2 separate regions of the Homo sapiens genome follow, and region 1 is linked to region 2. The links come from fine-mapping of genetic effects on gene expression. A gene starts in region 2. The other region holds a variant in brackets. All regions are shown on one strand. Distances are from middle to middle.

Region 1 (2,906 bases), 670 kb after region 2:
TACTAAAAATACAAAATAGCCGGGCGTGTTGGCGGGCGCCTGTAGTCCCAGCTACTGGGGAGGCTGAGGCAGGAGAGTGGCGTGAACCCGGGAGGCGGAGCTTGCAGTGAGCCGAGATTGTGCCGCTGCATTCCATCCTGGGCGACAGAGCAAGACTCTGTCTCAAAAACAAAACAAAAAAAAACATGGAAATAGTTACTATGGGGAAATTTGAATTTATTGATTTTATTTTTATTTCTTTTTTGGAGGAGGGGAGTACTATAATCTTTTCAGTGTTTTTGGTTTTTATACAGGTCAATTCCCCTCTTTGACTCATCCCAAATTTTGGTGGGGGGGGCTTCAGTCACATCCTTGTCTTTTTCAGCAGCCTCCTCCCCATATTGTCTCGAGGATTGGGAAGCAGGAAATTTATAATACCCTTTTCTCTCTGTTTTCTCCAAATTCATTTTCTCTCCTGTGTTCCTTTGGGAGAAAAGGGAAATCAGTTCTGTCTCTTCACTCCTCTATATTACTCCATCTGGATGGACCCACACTGATAGCAGTGAACCTTGAACTTGGCAGTTTTGGAGCCAGGGTCTTTGCCCTCAGTGCAGTAAATTCATTTTTTTTTGTTTAGCTGCCAGATTTAGGGTCCAAACAGGAAAACAGAACTCACTCTAAGCATTTAAACCAGAGGGCATTTAATCCAGAGAATTAGCTGGCTGTGAATATGGTGGAAGAGCTGAGAAGCCTTTCAAGGGAAGGTGAGGCAATGCAGGGGAAGATTAGCAACCGAACCTTCTATTCTCCCTAGGCTGTGGGAAGGAGGGGAAGTGCAAGGGGCAGGGTAACTTAGAAGCCGGAACTTTGGGGGCCTGTTCTAGGGAAGCTGGGGCCAAAGAGTGCCTGTCCAGATGCTGGCCAAGGCTGGGAGAGAAGGGGAAGAGATAGTCTGGCTTCTCTCGTTCAGTTTTCTGCCAGTGCCTCCCTGACTGAGCTCAGCAGGAAGCCATCTGTGGAGGGAATGGGAAGGAGCGCCACCATTTACTACACACGCTTCCACATAAGCTTGCGTTTGTCTCTTCCTAGTTAGTACACTTCTTAAGGATATTGAACTAAGTTGAACAGTTTCTCTTTTTTGGTCATATACTACTGATCAGCTCTTCTTATTAGACTTTTCAATGAAGAGATGAAAAATTTGAAAACCTTTACACAGTGTAAAAACAAGCAAACTCTTTTAAAAAAATTTTTGCTTTACTCTTCCAGAATATGGTCCCAAACTGCTGATGGTGGGATGTAGTTCAATTTTGGATATGACGGACCCCTAATAATTACCATAATAATGGACATTTATATAATGCTTTACAATATACAAGGTGCTTTTACATTTATTGTTACTGCAAATAGGTCTTAATCTGGGGATTTTGGAGCCTGTTTATTTGACCTCTAACAGGTTAGCTTAAGGCCTAGATTTGAAAGAAAAAAACAGTAATGCTCTTTTCTTGTTTTCCTCTGAATCACAGATGATAGGCAAACTTCTTTGACCTTTTTGTTAGACAGTTTAGCTACCCTCAGTAGTGGGAGGTGTTCTTAGCTGTCACTGGTGGGAGAGGCTGGCATCAAATTACTCCTCTGTTTTTCTCTCTTGGTGACCCAGCAGGTGTTTAGGACAATGACGACTACTCATGTGGAACCTTTGCAGTCATATAGATCATGCCTGTTGTTTTTGGCCTATTCTCCTTCT[CCTT/C]CTTCTTCTTTTTTTTTTTTAGATGGAGTCTTGCTGTGTCATCCAGGCTGGGGCGCAGTGGTATGATCTCGGTTCACTGCAACCTTCACCTCCTGGGTTCAATCAATTCTCCTGCCCTCAGCCTCCCGAGTAGCTGGAATTACGGGCGTCTGCACCATGCCTGGCTAATTTTTGTATTTTCAGTAGAGACAGGGTTTCATTATGTTGGCTAGGCTGGTCTTGAACTCCTAACCTCAGGTGATCTACCTCCCTCGGCCTCCCAAATTGTTGGGATTACAGGCATGAGCAACCGCATCTGGCCCCCTATTCTCATCTAAATAAATATTTTATTTCTTTATTTTCAAAGTGTCATCCTTGGCCCTCAAGGAAGAGTCTAAGTCAGCCCTACAGTTCATCTTGTCTAGTGTTTGATCAAGATTTGCTTTGTGGGCCAGGCGCGGTGGTTCACGCCTGTAATCCCAGCACTTTGGGAGGCCAAGGTGAGCAGATCATGAGGTCAGGAGATCGAGACCATCCTGGCTAACACGGTGAAACCTCGTCTCCACTAAAAATACAAAAAATTAGCCGGACGTGGTGGCGGGCGACTGTAGTCCCAGCTACTCAGGAGGCTGAGGCAGGAGAATCGCTTGAACCTGGGAGGTGGAGCGTCCAGTGAGCCGAGCTGGCACTACTGCACTCCAGCCTGGGTGACAGAGTGAGACTCTGTCTCAAAAAAAAAAAAAAAATTTGCTTTGTGGAAAATCAAAATAATTGAATTTATTCTTGGGCCAGATATACCCCAACCAATCTTAGCTTTGTTTTTATGACATTATACATGAAGTTATCTAAATCAGGTGTTTTTCTTTTTTTTTTTTTTTTTTTTGAGACAGAGTCTTGCTCTGTCACCCAGGCTGGAGTGCGGTGGCATGATCTTGGCTCACTGCAAGCTCCGCCTCCCAGGTTCACACCTTTCTCCTGCCTCAGCCTCCCCAGTAGCTGGGACTACAGGTGCCCACCACCATGCCTGGCTAATTTTTTGTATTTTTAGTAGAGATGGGGTTTCACTATGTTAGCCAGGATGGTCTCGATCTCCTGACCTCGTGATCCACCCTCCTCAGCCTCCCAAAGTGCTGGGATTACAGGCGTGAGCCACTGTGCCAGGCCTAAATCATGTTTTGTGGTTTTTTTTTTTTTTGTACTT
Region 2 (2,906 bases):
CATTGTCTGTAGAACCAGGAGAGAAAACGGGGAAAGTCAGGCCTCTAGGTCCCAACCAGTTCTTTCTACTAAGCTCTGGATCTACAGCAACCACATCCTAATAGCCTCAGAGCACCCATGTCACCCTGAACCCCTCACCGAGAGTCACAGCCGACTGCTCAGGCACGTTGATGACAATTTCCTTGAGACTCTGCACATATCGGATCCGGTCTAACACAGGGATGAGGATGTTCAAACCCTGGAAAGAGGAGTCATGGGTCCTCAGAAGGCTGGGAACTATTGGGTTGGGACCTAAGCTAGTCCTGGAGTATGTAGGGAGTCAACACATGGAACATGCCCAGAAAAGCAGCAGCTCCTACCAAGAAATAAGTCCTCAGAAGGCTGAGGTGTCACTGGTAAGAAAACCCAAGAGAACAGGAATGCAAGACTAGGCCCCTGAATGGAGGGGAGAGTCATGAGAATCGGAGCCAGCAGAATAGCCATCTCTATGCAGACTGAGAGGTAGGGCTGAGAGTGGGCAGGGGAGATTCCCAAGAATGGGGCCTGTGAGATGCATAGGAAAAGGTGGTAACATGGGGATGATGGTCAGCAGCCTGGGCCCTGTCAGGTCTGGCCTACAGAGTCGGGAGCTAACAGTGCGGGCAGGCCCAAAGGAAGTCCTCCCGACATTGCATGTCGTGAGGGATTGGTCATCTGGCTGGCCCAGGGTGGGCAGAAGAGGTTTCTCACAGGCTCCAGGATCCGGTGGAATCGGCCCATTCGCTCCACCACCCAGGCCTCCTGCTGCGGCACGAACAGTACCACGGTGTTTCGGGGCAATCCAGAGGAGGCGCGGCGCGGAGCGCGGCCAGAAGCCAGTAGAGAGCCCTGAAGGAAAGAAGAGGGTGAGCAGAGATCCCATCTGGCCAGACACGCCGCCCCTCGGTCCTGAAGGCATCTCCATAAACCACGACCCTCAGGATCCTCGGAGAATCACATGGGGACCATGACCTCTGACCCCAGTCCTCTCCAAAAGTTGGAATTTCGCTCTTTTCCAGCGGAGAACCCAGGTAATCTCTGTCCTGACCCTCTGGAAAGGTTGCCTCGCTCTCACCCTCAGCAAAAGGGCCCCAGTGCCCCGCGCCGCGCGCGCCAGCATTTCCCACCGCCGCAGCGACCTCCGGAACCAACGAGACGAGCGGAGCGGTCGCTCCCAGAAGCCTACCCGAGCCTTTCCTCTTGCAGTTCCGCTCCCCCGGATGTACTTCCGGCAGCTCCCTCCCCCGCTTCAACACTCACCCAATCAGCGTTACTTGGTCGAACGGCGCGTCAAGTTGTTCCCTGGGAAACGCAGACCTTCTAGAGAAGGGCGAAGGCTGTGGTTGTTCTGGGTTTAGCTGTTCACGCCGAAGATCCCCGGCCTGATGGCCAAAATGGAGGCTATTTTTCGCGGGCATTATCACTCAGACACCACGCACTGAATTATTCGTCCTCACCCGAGACTCAGTTTGCCCACCAGAGCGTAGTATCGCCCCCATCTGTCACCATAGCGACTAGTGGATTGGAGCTGACTCGTTGCCATGGTTGCCATAGTGATATTCTCTGGTAGTCCCGCTGTGTTGTGCCCAGGACTCCCACTGGGGACTGACCCCAATCCCGTTGCCATGGAAACTGGGCCTAATATTGCCTGGCGATTGGGCCGAGATTTTCCCCTCCCCTCTTTCCTCAAAGACACTGCAGCTCCTTCCCTGTCTTCCCAAGCAAGGTTTGTTATGCCCGGTCTTAAATACAGTCCAGCAAACAGCCTCAACGTTCAACCTTGTCTGGAGCATGTCACCTTGCCCACATCCCTAATGCTCTGGTAGTCAAGAGACCTCCGTAGTCACCTCCATTTTACATATGAGGGCACTGAAGTTCTGAGGGGCTAAAGTCATTAATAGAACCAGTATTAGAATCCTGATCTACAATTCAGAGTTCAGCTTCTACGGCTGAACTTTACCCACCAACCCCTCCGAAAGGAGAAAAACCAGGCCCCAGGAATCAGCAGGGACTAGCCTAAGACCTCATGGGCCCAGGCCTGTTGCCTCTCTGGTAGAAAGGGCTGAGTCCCAGCTCCAGGAAGGCCCTCCATCCCCCTTCACACCCTCTCCCCAACAACAACAACAACAACAAAAGTAGAGCTTAGTTCAAGTTTCCAAACAAGAATTTATTCTTTCTTTTTTAATCTTTTTTTCTAAAAAAAAGTACCAGGTACAATTTTTTCCTGTTTTTGATTTGCTTTGTTTTTTCAAGTTTCAGCAAATGCTTGTTCCCCTCAGCCCAGCCCCAGGAGTTAGGACTGAGGCTGGGTCAGAGTCTGGAGTGGGGAATGGGGTAGTTTGGAACCACATGACTGAGTTTGAGGGGTGCCCCTCACCCCAGCTGAGGTAGGTGGGTCAGAGTCTGGCCAGGTGAGAGGAGGCACCCCAGTGCTTGGCCCTGACTCTGCCCCCTGGACACCTTCTTCAGTCAGGACCCCAAAACAAGGAGACACAGGTAGGAGGAGAGGGACAACTGGAGTCTGGAGCCCTAGGTGAGGGGTGGTTAACCCCTGTGTGTGTGCATACATGCACACTCACACACACATACCACACAAAGACAAGCTTGTGCACACACACATACGCATAACTTGGCTTTCAGAGATAGGTCAGAGGGTAGGGGAAGTGAAGGGACTGGGGAAGGACAGGGGAAGCTGAGTCTTTGGCTACTGACTCAGTCCCTCTGGAATAGCCCCTCTTCCCTCAGCTGAGGGAAAGCAGTTCTCCTCCTGCCCCCACCGCATAAGCCTCTTCAACTCCTGAGGTTGGAGCAATATCTGAGAGTGGGAAGCGGGGAGGAGTGATGCCAATTATCAGGTGTGGGAGGTTACCAAGGCAATCCAATTTGAA

Evidence for each region.
Region 1: its variant is fine-mapped to the expression of STOML2 in lymphoblastoid cells (GTEx, PIP above 0.99).

What each region holds. Positions count from the first base shown.
Region 1 is chr9:35,774,560-35,777,465 of GRCh38, forward strand. It overlaps a transcript of RGP1 not described here. Among named protein-coding and RNA genes, the nearest start is that of NPR2, 16 kb to the right of the region's middle. The variant CCTT/C (reference allele first, on the strand shown) is at 1,724.
Region 2 is chr9:35,101,957-35,104,862 of GRCh38, forward strand. STOML2 (stomatin like 2) reads right to left here and starts at 1,175. Exons shown (of 10, transcript NM_013442.3): 1 at 1,094-1,175; 2 at 730-867; 3 at 139-238; 4 at 1-6. The coding sequence starts at 1,138. It overlaps ATOSB (atos homolog B), which reads right to left. Exons shown (of 9, transcript NM_025182.4): 9 at 2,161-2,906. It also overlaps a transcript of PIGO-AS1 not described here. RefSeq lists enhancers at 553-812, 943-1,212, 1,223-1,272, 1,393-1,442.